Linked DNA regions of Homo sapiens. The gene in region 2 interacts genetically with the main gene of each other region. Each region holds a gene or a part of one and is shown on either strand. Other genes may lie near its edges.

Evidence for each region. Genes that interact genetically often act in the same process or in processes that back each other up.
Region 1: of CSRP3 (region 2) and MYOD1, changing one enhances a phenotype caused by changing the other (phenotypic enhancement), as found in Homo sapiens cells (one study listed by BioGRID).

The regions. Positions count from the first base shown.
Region 1 is NC_000011.10:17,715,366-17,722,591, forward strand, and holds MYOD1 (myoblast determination protein 1), read left to right. Parts: upstream 1-4,205; 5' UTR 4,206-4,417; coding exon 4,418-5,047; intron 5,048-5,536; coding exon 5,537-5,615; intron 5,616-5,889; coding exon 5,890-6,143; 3' UTR 6,144-6,771; downstream 6,772-7,226. UniProt on the Homo sapiens protein: Acts as a transcriptional activator that promotes transcription of muscle-specific target genes and plays a role in muscle differentiation. Together with MYF5 and MYOG, co-occupies muscle-specific gene promoter core region during myogenesis.
Region 2 is NC_000011.10:19,191,970-19,198,990, forward strand, and holds part of CSRP3 (cysteine and glycine-rich protein 3), read right to left. Parts: intron 4,951-7,021; exon of another isoform or gene 4,744-4,950; intron 508-4,743; 5' UTR 480-507; coding exon 368-479; intron 1-367. UniProt on the Homo sapiens protein: Positive regulator of myogenesis. Acts as a cofactor for myogenic bHLH transcription factors such as MYOD1, and probably MYOG and MYF6.

The DNA.
Region 1 (7,226 bases), 1.5 Mb from region 2:
AAGCTTAAAACTGTCAAAGCAGTTTAGATTTATAAGCCATAAGTGATAAAATATTAAATGTGTTTGGTAAGTTCAAACATATAACATTTACTTATTTATTGTAAAGGCAACTTGATGACAGCCCTGAGGAAGTTTTTAGAAACACAAAGCACAAAAAGCAAAGTTGTATTCACTTGTCTCAGCATCCAATTTATTTTGTAGTTTCTTGCTTATTCAGATTTGGGGAAAATCTAGATTTGCATAGATAAGTGGTTTGAATAGCTCACCTGGGAATCTCAGAGTACTCTTTAATTAAGTAGACTCATTCATTCATTTGCCCAAGAAATATTTATTGAGTGCCTACTATGCACCTGGCTTTCTGCTGAGCCTTGAGCAAGTAGGAAGAAGTATTTGTTTCTAAATCATCAATACAACAATTACTTACATTCCTCATTGTGAGTATAGTGAAAAAACAATAAGAAGACACATCGAGATGCCAAATCTCTCTATAGTATACCACTACAATATTGCAGCATGCCATGTATAATGCCCAGTTCAAGAGAACATGCCCCAGGCAGATGGGGTCTGAGCCTTTCCTGGGAAGAGCAAGTGTAATAGAACATGGATGTCTAATCATGTATGTGACTTCCCAGTTTTGAAGAAATTCAACCATCTTCATTAATGTCACAGTTCAAGACATTCAAATATATGCATAGAGATGCAAAGGGCGTGAGGCCACTCATTCATTCACTGGACATTTATCAGGTGCCTACTGTGTGACTGCCACTGTGATGGTTTTTGGAAATGTCATTGTGAACAAAACATCTTTGCCTTCATGGGGCTAAGTCAGTCATGAACAAACTAATGAAGAAGATTATAAAGAGTGGCAGTGCCTGGAAGGAAATTAACAGGGTGGTGTGAACCAGAGTATGGGGGGCAGTTATCTTAGAGGGAATGGTCAGTGATGTCCCAAGGAGGCAAGAAGATCTATTATATAAAATGCAGTCAATCTTGGGAAAAGCCCAGGGGATAATGCTATGAGTTTAGAGCAGCAAGGACAAGGCTCCAAGGCAGGATCCTGTTCAGAGTGTTAGAAGACAAGAAAGGAGGTCAGGCTAACTGGAGTAGAGCAATCAAAACGGATGGTGCCTCCAGGTGTAGTAAGAGACACAGGCTGAGGCTAGCTCATGCAGGGCCTGATAGGCCAGGGGATGGAGATGAGATTTTACTCTAAATGCAAGAAGCTGCTGGGGAGTTTGAAGCAGGAGGATGGCATAATCCCATTTACATTGTAAAGGTCTACTCAGGCTGCTATGTAACGAATGGATTATACTGAGGCTACAGAGGAAGTGAGGAGGGCAGCCAGGTTATTGTGGTCATCCAGAGCAGCAGTGTGACAGCTTAGTCCAGGATGGTGACACTAGGGATGGACTGACTTGAGACAGGTCTTAGAGGTAGAATGGACAGCTCTTCCTCATACTCAGACCTCTCCTTGGGAACTCCAGCCTTAAAAATCCCCCTGCCTAATCCACACTTCCATCTGGATATCCGATATGCATTTCAAATTTTGCCCAAACCTGGACACTTAATCTACCACCCACAAACCTAGTCTTCTCAACTCCATTCTTGCAGGAGTCATCCTTAGCTCCTTGCTTATCTCACTTCCCACATGCAATCGTGAGTAAATACTGCTAGCTCCATCTTGAAAACATATATCTAGAATTCAACCACCACTTTTCACCAGCTCCACTCACTGGGATTATTGCAATAGCCTCCTAATTGGTCTCCCTCCTTCTGCCCTTTCCCTCCAGTAACCAGCATGCTCCTGTTAAAATGTAAATCAGATAGTGATATTCTTCTCTTCCGCTCAAGCCCTCCAGTGAGATGGCTCAAGCCATCTCAGAATATAATCCTGTTTCTCTCTCTCTCACCCCATTTCCCACTATCTCTTTTACTCACCCTGCTGCAGACATATGAGCCTCCTTGCCATACTTTGAATCTGCCAAACATGGTCCTGCCTCAGGACTTTTGCACATGCTTATCCCTCTATCTGGCCCTACATATCTCCAGGTATCTGCTTCCAATTCTCTTCATTCAGGTCTCTGCTTAAATGTAGCAGAGAGGCCTTCTCTAATCACTCCATAATCTTCATCACTGTGTCTCCCTGCCTTGCTTTTTCTTCATAAGGCTTCTAACCTCCTGGCATCACATACTTCCTTGCTTATTTGTTCATTGTCTATCACCCTGCTTACATTGACAATGTAAGTGCCATGTAAGCAGAGTCTTGGTTTTGTTCATTGCTCTAGCCCCACACTTGGACTGGTACCTGCCACATAATGGATACCTAACAATATGTGGATTTCCGGGTGACCCCCTGCAGCTTGGGTGGGGTGAGGCCAGGACTTTGCTGCCTCTGCCAGGATTTAGAGTTACTGTCACTGCTGCTCCATGATGTAGACTTTACTGAATGAACAAATACAGGTGGGCCCTATGGAGTAAAGCGAGGTGAGTACTTCATGAAGGGAGACCTTCAGCACCACTACCAGCAGCAGAGAAGTGAAGAAGTTAGGACCCCAACAGAGCCCTCTGAGTTTTGTGGGAAGGGAGGACTTCTTAGGGCCCAGAACGGCCAGCTAGAATGCCTTCCAGAAGTTAGTGGGAAAGGCACAAAGATCACTCCTGCTTAAATTTCTGGTTTCCAGGAGGGGAGATCCAGGCAGGGATGTATGGCCAACGGAGATTCCTAGCCAGAGTGCTGAGAGGACTGTGTGAACTGCAGATTCAGGAAGAGGCTGAGAGACCCCCATGGGGGTGGCCGGTATGCTGAGGCTTGTATGGGAGCCAGATATCCCACATCCCATGGGGTGGTTGCCTCCTCCTGTTTCCAGCCTTTCCAGTGAGGCTGCAGGAAAGAGACACAGCTAAGGCCTGGAGACTCGTGGCACTCCGTCAGGGCATGGTACCACAGATGAGTTGTAAGCCTGCGGGACACAGCATCCAACTCTGAAAGCCCCTTGCTCGAATAACCCTACATCACCGCCTGAGGGCTTCCATATCCTTGGTCTCTTCAGACTGTCATCCCCACCACAATTACTCCAAGAAATTACTGTCATCCCCAAATCTATAACTGGAAACTGAGGCTCAGGAAGGAGACATGACTTCCACAAAATCACACAGTTGGGAAACTCTGGAGTCTGCACTCAACTGGTCTGCAAACCGCACTCTCGGAGACTTCAGGTGAGATGAGGTCAGGTTCTCAGGCCAGGTCCTGAAGTTTGACACCTTGGCGAAATGCACTTTCCTTGACTCAGCACCGCGAGTGAGGCGGAGCCAAGCCCCGAGCAGAAGGGTTTTCTTCCCAGCTGAAGAGGCAGCTCAGCCTAGACCCCAGGCATGGCACTGGACACCCCTGCTGTGGAAACGTGCAGATTTAGATGGAGGGGATTCCTAACCTGGGCAGGATCCGAGTTTGGAGAGATTGGCGCGAAGCTTTAGCAGCAATCTCCGATTCCTGTACAACCATAGCTGGGTTTCTAAGCGTCTAGGGAAGAAGGACTGGGCCCACGACCTGCTGAGCAACTCCCAGGTCGGGGACTGGCGGAATATCAGAGCCTCTACGACCCGTTTGTCTCGGGCTCGCCCACTTCAACTCTCGGGGTCTCTCCGCCTGTTGTTGCACTCGTGCGTTTCTCTGCCCCTGACGCTCTAAGCTTTCTGCTTTCTGCGTGTCTCTCAGCCTCTTTCGGTCCCTCTTTCACGGTCTCACTCCTCAGCTCTGTGCCCCCAATGCCTTGCCTCTCTCCAAATCTCTCACGACCTGATTTCTACAGCCGCTCTACCCATGGGTCCCCCACAAATCAGGGGACAGAGGAGTATTGAAAGTCAGCTCAGAGGTGAGCGCGCGCAGCCAGCGTTTCCCGCGGATACAGCAGTCGGGTGTTGGAGAGGTTTGGAAAGGGCGTGCCGGAGAGCCAAGTGCAGCCGCCTAGGGCTGCCGGTCGCTCCCTCCCTCCCTGCCCGGTAGGGGACCTAGCGCGCACGCCAGTGTGGAGGGGCGGGCTGGCTGGCCAGTCTGCGGGCCCCTGCGGCCACCCCGGGGACCCCCCCAAGCCCCGCCCCGCAGTGTTCCTATTGGCCTCGGACTCCCCCTCCCCCAGCTGCCCGCCTGGGCTCCGGGGCGTTTAGGCTACTACGGATAAATAGCCCAGGGCGCCTGGCGAGAAGCTAGGGGTGAGGAAGCCCTGGGGCGCTGCCGCCGCTTTCCTTAACCACAAATCAGGCCGGACAGGAGAGGGAGGGGTGGGGGACAGTGGGTGGGCATTCAGACTGCCAGCACTTTGCTATCTACAGCCGGGGCTCCCGAGCGGCAGAAAGTTCCGGCCACTCTCTGCCGCTTGGGTTGGGCGAAGCCAGGACCGTGCCGCGCCACCGCCAGGATATGGAGCTACTGTCGCCACCGCTCCGCGACGTAGACCTGACGGCCCCCGACGGCTCTCTCTGCTCCTTTGCCACAACGGACGACTTCTATGACGACCCGTGTTTCGACTCCCCGGACCTGCGCTTCTTCGAAGACCTGGACCCGCGCCTGATGCACGTGGGCGCGCTCCTGAAACCCGAAGAGCACTCGCACTTCCCCGCGGCGGTGCACCCGGCCCCGGGCGCACGTGAGGACGAGCATGTGCGCGCGCCCAGCGGGCACCACCAGGCGGGCCGCTGCCTACTGTGGGCCTGCAAGGCGTGCAAGCGCAAGACCACCAACGCCGACCGCCGCAAGGCCGCCACCATGCGCGAGCGGCGCCGCCTGAGCAAAGTAAATGAGGCCTTTGAGACACTCAAGCGCTGCACGTCGAGCAATCCAAACCAGCGGTTGCCCAAGGTGGAGATCCTGCGCAACGCCATCCGCTATATCGAGGGCCTGCAGGCTCTGCTGCGCGACCAGGACGCCGCGCCCCCTGGCGCCGCAGCCGCCTTCTATGCGCCGGGCCCGCTGCCCCCGGGCCGCGGCGGCGAGCACTACAGCGGCGACTCCGACGCGTCCAGCCCGCGCTCCAACTGCTCCGACGGCATGGTAAGGCCGGGACCCCAGGAAGTGAGGAAGTTAGGGCGGCGCTCGGGATATCAGGGACGCGTTTCCGAGGGCGGGGAGCTGGCCTTGCGGGAGGTTTGGGCCAGGATCCTTCCCGAGAGAGAGGACCCCCTTGTCCTGGGCAGCTGTCACTGGGGTAGCCTGTTTTGGAAGTGTGCGGGCAAGCGTTCGAGCTGCCCCATTGGGGGCGCTATTAGAACACTGCAGCGCGAACGTGAAGATCTTTTTCTCTACTTATCCCTACTTCCAAAATGTAAATTTGCGCCCCTTGGTGACTGTCCGCCCTTGGTTTGGCCCTGCATGTTGCAGACCTCATCTCCTACCCACCCGTAATTACCCCCCCAACCAGGACAGGTCTGGGCCCGGAACTAGAGCCTTAGGCTAGAGTTAGGGAGGGGGCGGCTACAGGAATTGGTGTTCGGGCCTCGAGCCGTCCCGCGGGCCTGACTCAGTCGCCCTTGCTGTTTGCAGATGGACTACAGCGGCCCCCCGAGCGGCGCCCGGCGGCGGAACTGCTACGAAGGCGCCTACTACAACGAGGCGCCCAGCGGTGGGTATTCCGGGCCTCTCCCTGCTCGCTCCTCCTCCTTCATGGAGCTGTCCTGGCCTCTATCTAGGACGCTCCCACCCCCACTCACACACGCCTATGTCCTGGGAAGTGGTGCAGGAGATGAAATACTAAGCAAGTAGCTCCCTGTCTTTTGGATTGTCCCGGACTCTAACTAAAGTCCTCAGTTTCCAATCTGTCTCAAAGTACTGGGCCCGGGGGTGGGAGGCTTGTCGCGGCCCCACCCCTGCTTACTAACCGAGCCCTCCCCGCGCAGAACCCAGGCCCGGGAAGAGTGCGGCGGTGTCGAGCCTAGACTGCCTGTCCAGCATCGTGGAGCGCATCTCCACCGAGAGCCCTGCGGCGCCCGCCCTCCTGCTGGCGGACGTGCCTTCTGAGTCGCCTCCGCGCAGGCAAGAGGCTGCCGCCCCCAGCGAGGGAGAGAGCAGCGGCGACCCCACCCAGTCACCGGACGCCGCCCCGCAGTGCCCTGCGGGTGCGAACCCCAACCCGATATACCAGGTGCTCTGAGGGGATGGTGGCCGCCCACCCGCCCGAGGGATGGTGCCCCTAGGGTCCCTCGCGCCCAAAAGATTGAACTTAAATGCCCCCCTCCCAACAGCGCTTTAAAAGCGACCTCTCTTGAGGTAGGAGAGGCGGGAGAACTGAAGTTTCCGCCCCCGCCCCACAGGGCAAGGACACAGCGCGGTTTTTTCCACGCAGCACCCTTCTCGGAGACCCATTGCGATGGCCGCTCCGTGTTCCTCGGTGGGCCAGAGCTGAACCTTGAGGGGCTAGGTTCAGCTTTCTCGCGCCCTCCCCCATGGGGGTGAGACCCTCGCAGACCTAAGCCCTGCCCCGGGATGCACCGGTTATTTGGGGGGGCGTGAGACCCAGTGCACTCCGGTCCCAAATGTAGCAGGTGTAACCGTAACCCACCCCCAACCCGTTTCCCGGTTCAGGACCACTTTTTGTAATACTTTTGTAATCTATTCCTGTAAATAAGAGTTGCTTTGCCAGAGCAGGAGCCCCTGGGGCTGTATTTATCTCTGAGGCATGGTGTGTGGTGCTACAGGGAATTTGTACGTTTATACCGCAGGCGGGCGAGCCGCGGGCGCTCGCTCAGGTGATCAAAATAAAGGCGCTAATTTATACCGCCGTGGCTCCGGCTTTCCCTGGACATGGGTGTGGGATCCGGAGGAAAATCCGCAAACTGGGCCAGCTGTCCCTCAGCGACGCCTGTAGGCGGCAGGCGGATTGCAAGGAGGAAGCCTGCTGCCTGGGGAAGGAAGGAGGGGTGCAAATTTCTCCAGTACGTGAGGAAGTTCCTCTGACCTTGACTACATTACTACACACGTCCGTGGCTCTTATGGAAGGGTACACAGGTTGATATGAGTATTTTTTAAACCCATGTCTGAGCTCGCCCCCTAGATATTCTGATTTAATGTTTCTGCCCCATATACCCAGGGCCAGGTATTGGTATTTTTTTTCAAAAGCTCCCCAAGTGATTCTGAAGTTCATTCAAGGCTGAGAATCATCCCCTCCATATAAAGTGAGTGAACCCAGGTGTGATAACCAGAAGAACCACGGGAAGGTTGTGGCCCAGGCATCACT
Region 2 (7,021 bases):
CCATCCTGGCTTCAGATAAGTGCTGGCTTCCTTTCTCTGCCAAGTCACATGTTGTCAATGTCGCCATGGGGTCAAAGTTTTCCCTACAGAGAGCAGTGACAGGCTAGCTTGTTCTGACGTTGAGCTACAGGAAAATGAATGGCCTCTGAGCTGGGCAAGCAGTTGAAGCAAGGGTATTCAGGAGAGCACCATCTTTTCTTGGTGGAGCCCAAGAGTTAAATTTCTAACCAGTTCCCAGGTAATGCTGATGCTGCTTGTCCCAGGACCACACTATGAGAACCACTGGCATACAGTGTTTGTGATTCAATGTGAATTTTGTGATGCTGTCCGGATGCTGAGGGGCCCCCAGGGTGTCCACCCAACTCACTGCAGTGGAAACACGTCTTGTGGAAACTCCTTCCATTGCACTGGATTTCTTCTGCATGGTAGACGGTCTTTTCACAGGCTCCACATTTTGCGCCTCCGCCCCAGTTTGGCATCTTGAAGACTATCTGGTCAAGGTCAAGTCTAAGGGGACATAAAGCAAATACCCTACATTGAAGTGGCCCCAGGAGTGAACCAATCTCTAAGAGTGCAGTGGTCTGAAGACCAGGATCCAGCCCAATTTTTTTTTAGTGTTTCATTTATTCATTCATTTAGCAAACAGCTACTGTGTGCTAGTCATTAAATAAGCTCAGACACTTAGATGGCTTTGGGTAATCACTTTACCACTTGGGAACTCAGTTTCTTCTCCTGTTAAATTTCAGTAACATCTATTCCTATGTATCTCACAGGGCTCCCGGAAGGAATGAATAGGCTAATTTCATGTACATAAAAGTATATACAAAGATCGTTTTTTTTTTCATCTCAAGTTTAAAAAATTATCCCATCAGAACTGGGAATCATCTGTGAAGATGGTATTTTCTTCTTGTCTAGCTAAGAGCTTCTCAAATCACCTTAGACCTTGCTAAATGCAGATTCTGGTTTGGTAGATCTGGGGAGAGGCAGGAAATTCTGCATTTCTAACAGACTCCAGGCAATATTGATGCTGCTGGCAGTGGACTACATTTTGGGTAGCAAAATCTTAGCTTATCTTGCTGATAGAAAAGCATATTAATAATATATAAAATCTCCTATTCCAAGTTATTCCTCATATCCATACATTCCTTTTTAAGAATATAATCACCTAGGCTATAAGATATATTGGCACTACACTAGGTCAGTAGTTGGAAACTTGCTTTCTGCTTTCAGGGCTACCCTCTACCTGCTGTTCATATCAGGATGAACTACATAGCTTAACTTTATACCTGTTTTCCCACCTATACAGTTATTCTTTTCCCTGCTGCTTTAGTGTCCTTTAGAAAATCAAACGACATGATGTGCAGGAAGGTCCCACAGAGTTCACAGTGCTCAACAGGAGCCAGACCATGGTGCTGACATGTCCTCCTGCACCATTGGAGACATTCAGCTACAAGGAGCTGCTAATAGCCACAGCCCCAGGACTGTCATTGTCTCCTCACCACAGGATTACATTTAAGAGATATTAACCAAAGAAAATTATTTAAAAAAATAATTGTCCTCTGTATTTTTAGTAGAGACGGGGTTTCACCATGTTGGCCAGGCTGGTCTCAAACTCCTGACCTCAAGTGATCTGCCCGCCTTGGCCTTCCAAAGTGCTGGAATTACAGGCTTGAGCCACCGTGCCCGGCCTAAACAAAAATTAGCCAGGTGTGGTGGTGGGCACCTGTAATCCCAGCTGCTTGAGAGGCTGAGGAAAGAGAATCACTTGAACCCAGGAGGCGGAGGTTGCAGGGAACCAAGATTGTACCACTGCACTCCAGCCTGGGCAACAGAGCGAGACTCCGTCTCAAAAAATAAATAAATAAATAAAATAGTAATAATAATTGTCCTCATCTGCATATGTTTTTAGTATGAATCCAAGTTTTCAGTTTCCTCAAAGCAGAACTAAAATAAGCCATTGATGTTAAATGAAACTTCTGAAATTCAGCTGCCCAGGGGAGCTGCATTTTCACTGGGATCCTCTGGTTTCTAAGAAGCCTAGTGTGTCATGACATGGAGCACTATCCAGCCATTCTGAGTGGCTGCTTGTGACCTTCACTTTCCCTTCTGGGAAGCCAGTCACCTTCTTATAATAGTTGGCGATTAACACTAAGCCCTCCTGGGTCAACTGGTCCGGATTGTATCTCACAGTCTCATAACAAAGGCAGTTTTTTGCTAAGAAACAGAAAGTAAATAGCAAACAGACCACTGAACCTGATACTAGGTCTAGAAGGAATGTTTCTATCTAAATATTCCCCCAAAGAGCTTTTCCTGCTTAGAAAAACTGTGAGGTTAGCCAGGAACATCCTATCCTTCCTCTCACAGAAGTAGGATCTTCTGCTAATTCAGTAAAATTTTAGAAAAGAACTTTAAAAAAGGAAACATTGGGCTGGGCATGGTGGCTCACACTTACAATCCCAGGACTTTGGGAGGCCAAGGCAGGAGGATCACTAGCCCAGGAGTTTGAGACCAGCCTGGGCAACATAGTGAGGCCCCTGTCTCTACCCCACCCCCCAAAAAATTACCCTGGTGTGGTGGCATGCTCCTGTAGTCAGTCCTAGCTACTCAGCAGGTTGAGGCAGGAGAATCACTTGAACTCAGGAGTTCTAGGCTTCAATGAGCTATGATCACACCACTCTACTTCAGCCTAAGTGACAGAGTGAGGCCCTGCCTCTAAAATAAATAAATAAGAATTTCTTAAAAAATGGAAGCATGTGGTTTTTCTATTTCTGTAGTTCGGGTTGTTTAGGAAACTAGAAAGAGTAATGGATTTTGAGTTGAAAGACTTAGAATTAAAACTCACATTCATTCGTTCATTCATTCATTCACCCTGCATTTACTACCTGCCTATCATGTGTCAAGTACTGCACTAAGTACTCAGTGACAAAAGGGGGAAAACTTATAAAAATGAGTAGTTTGTGACCCCTGGCATTGAGAAGCCCATGTTGTAGTGAGAAAAATAGACAAGATTCAGAATGCTCTGTACCAGAGAAGAGTCTTGTGAGACATGCTACAGAAACTCAAATGACGGACTGGCTCCCCACATTTAGTCTGGGGATAAAGGCAGTGAACTGTTGGAGGGTCACAGAAGAGATCACATTCAAATGGGGGTTTGAAGGGTGAATAGGAGTTCACCAGATACAGAAAAGTGGGAAGGAATAATGCTAATGAAGTCATGCAGAGAAAAGAGCAAGCAGAAAGGCGTAGAGGCCTAAATAGCCTCTAAAATAGCCCAAATTTGTTTATTTTGGACTCCATTTAAACTACAGACTTTCAGGGCTGGAATAGATTTTTAAGATTGCTGGACCCTCTCATTTATAACCAAGGTGTATTTAAAAGTAAGCATTTAGGGATATTTTTCTTAGCCAACTTCTTTTTATACAATCCATTCTTCTCTCATTAAAGATGTTACATTTTCTAGAAAAGAATAGACTCACATAATTTTGCTCATGTTCATTTTGATCCTGAGTTTCAGCATGATACAAAATAGAGGAGAAATATAATAAATTTCCTCCAGGAACATGGCAGCGACACTTGTAAAATTAATGATATAGAAATTTTCAATGAAAACAACCTTAGGTCAAATTTCTCATTTCAGATTTGCAGTGGAGATTTCATTGGCATGTCTTGCAAGTTAATAGGAGACAGAGATACCTCTTGGGGGATAAAAATACATATATATCTGTGTGTGTGTGTGTGTGTGTGGATTCATTGCCTAGGCATACTTTTCAAAATGAGAATAGGATTACAGATAATACCTCCTTCACAAACTAATGTATCCTAGCACTGGTTGTTTTTAAGCGATCATAAATATCTGACATATATCATCAGGACTTGAAATTTAAAATATAAATCTGTAAGTACTCTATTAATGATGCTCAGTTCCATTTCTGAAGATGGGAATGTAACCATGGAGGCTAAACAGAAGATGTCTCACAGGCCAAAAGGTAGAGGATATTTTAAAGCATCCTGAATCCAGGCCAGGCATGGTGGCTCACGCCTGTAATCCCAGGACTGAGGCCGAGGCGAATGGATCATGAGGTCAAGAGATCAAGAACATCCTGGCCAGCATGGTGAAACCCCATCTCTACTAAAAATACAAAAATCAGCTGGGCGTGGTGGCATGCACCTGTAGTCCCAGCTACTCAGGAGACTGAGGCAGGAGAATCACTTGAACCCAGGAGGTGGAAGTTGCAGTGAGCTGAGATTGCGCCACTGCACTCCAGCCTGGCGACAGAGTGAGACTCCATCTGAAAAAATAAGTAAATAAATAAATAAAAAGGCATTCGGAATCCAGAGACATGGATTCTAATCTCGACCTTGAACTCGGGTAAAAAATGTTGATAATAGTATCTCCTGGGCAGGACCATTGTGAAGGTCATGGAAATATGATGGAATTTAAAGCAGTATTGAGAAATTATTTTTTCCCACTTCACTTTAGGTTACTCAAATGGCACCAATGTGCTAATTAAGGAGCTATGATTTGAAATCCCAGTTAGGTCCTGGCTTATGAACATAACCTTTTCAGCTTCCCGCATTGCTTTGGAATTCTTGTGTCCCAACACTCCCCTAGACACTCCCAGAATGTGAGCTTACCCTGGCAAGGTACCAAGGGATGGGCCATTTGTTTATCAGCGTTGCCTGGTACTGGCAAGGGTCATTGAAGGTGGGATACAATTATAGGCTTGCCCGTCACTCGGCCCTGTTTGTAACCTGGGTCACAATCTCCATCATACCACCTGGCACGACTCTCTGGGCCAGTCCCTGAGATGACTATGTTGTCAAAGACAAATCGTGGGTCAAGATTGAAATGGGGGACAGTCTGGAATTTACGAGGATGAGATAGAATGGACAGCCCTGTGACATCAACTTGGAAGAGGTTGGACTCCAGATTTGGATACTCAGATCCCGGTGAGAGACTACCTTGTGCCCACTTTTAAACTAAGATGTAACTAATACCATAGAAGAGATTATACTAGGAATGTGCTTCAGTGGGGCAGTGGGAAAAACACTGGATCAGGTGCCAGAGGCTGGAGTTCTAGTTCCATTTTGCCTCTTCGAAGCTGTGTGATCTGGGAAAACCGTTCAATCTCTCTGAACTTCAGTGTCTTCACTAGAATGAGGGCAATAATCCTTTTGATTTCACTATTGCTGAGAGGACCCTATTAGTTCAAGTACTGTCATATCATTCTGTAAATTGTAGAGTAATATAAAATGTGAGAACCAATTAGGTTCTCCCACAATTTTAAGTTGTTATTCATCAATCTGAATTTTCAAAAGAATAACTAAACTGTGTATTTTGGGCACATTCTTCCTAATCCAACTATTTCTCCCTCCCTCCCTCCCTCCCTCCCTCCCTCCCTCCCTCCCTCCCTCCCTCCCTTCCTTCCTTCCTTCCTTCCTTCCTTCCTTCCTTCCTTCCCTCCTTCTTTCCATCCTTTTTCCTTTCCTTCCCTCCCTTCCTCTCTCCATCTCTTTCTCTCCCTCTTTTCCTCTTTCTTTCTTTCTTTCTTTCTTTCTTTCTTTCTTTCTTTCTTTCTTTCTTTCTTTCTTTCTTTCTTTCTTTCTTCTTTCACTACCAACTATAAAGCTGAGCAATGATGAGTTAGGGCAAAAGTGGTGGGTACATAAAATGAGCACCCAGGAGGGAACTTTAGGCCATGACTTTGGGCAGAGACCTCAAGCCACAGTGCCACAATGCCACCGTTTTCAGCTCAGTGCTAGCTCAGTTGGTCATCCTACTAGATGCCTGATTTCCTGCAGTGAGTTCAATTGTCTACACTGGCTGAAGCAAAGATTTTGGATCATAGGAACATATATATATATATATATGGAATCTAAGCGATAGTAATAGTCATTTCTAACTTTATTATTGAAGTTAACATGCCTGGAGCACTGCCCTTGGGTATCGTTTAATCTTCACAACAACCCTTCAAGGTAGGTGCTATTATAACATTTACTTTACAGATGAGGAAATGGAGGCTTTGGGAAATTACATTAGTCCAAGTTCATGGGACTGATATGTGTCACATGAATAGATTGGAACTTACGTTTCTCTGACTCCAAAGCTTTACATATATTATTTTATGTCAGTTGCTTTACATATATTATTTTTTAATACTTACAACAGCTGCCCAGAGCAAATTTTATTTCCATTTTTATGGATAAGAGAACTGAAGAGCTTAAGTAGCTTTTCCAAGGTCACACAGCTAGTAATTGGAAGAGCTGCCATTTAACCCCCCGTTAAGCTGGTTCTGTATCTCATGCTCCTGTTTATAACACTGGAGAGAGGACAAGGGTCAGCACCTCCATCACCCAGACTTCCCAGTTGATGGGAATTGAGACGTGACCAATCCATTGTCTCTCCATGGGACACAGAGGGTATTCAAGGGTGGGACTAACAGGGAAACTGAATTCATTCACTGAAATCAATGACTTTCTGAGTTACGGCTGTTCAACATGGAAAGGGCTTCCTTGGAACTGGAGATTTCTTCTGCACTATTGATTTTCAGCTGAGGTGGGGACGGATGTCCAAGTGGCTGCTATACAGTGAAGTCCCTTCAAGGGTCCTTTAAGCCCTGAGACAGATTTAAGGATCTGAAAAGTGATTGAAACCTCACTTTGCAGAAAAGCTGCCCAATGGGGTGCCCTCTCAAACCCTCTCCTTTATTCACTCTTAATTTGGGTAAGAAAGATGACATAGCCACAGTGAAAACCATGGGCTTTGGAAGAACCAAGCTTAAGTTCAGAAACACTAACTGTTGAACACTGGGCAAGTTGCTCAAATTCTCTGACCCAGTGTCCTCAATGCATGTCCTCATGTAAAGACAATATGAGAAGGCTTGTCTGGGAAGGTTGTTTTCAGGTTAAAGAAGATAATAATAGCTAAGACACCATATAGAATTACTTAATACATAGCAGGAATTGAATAATTGTAGTTACTTGCATCATGACTATTATTGTTGTTATTACATTATCTCCA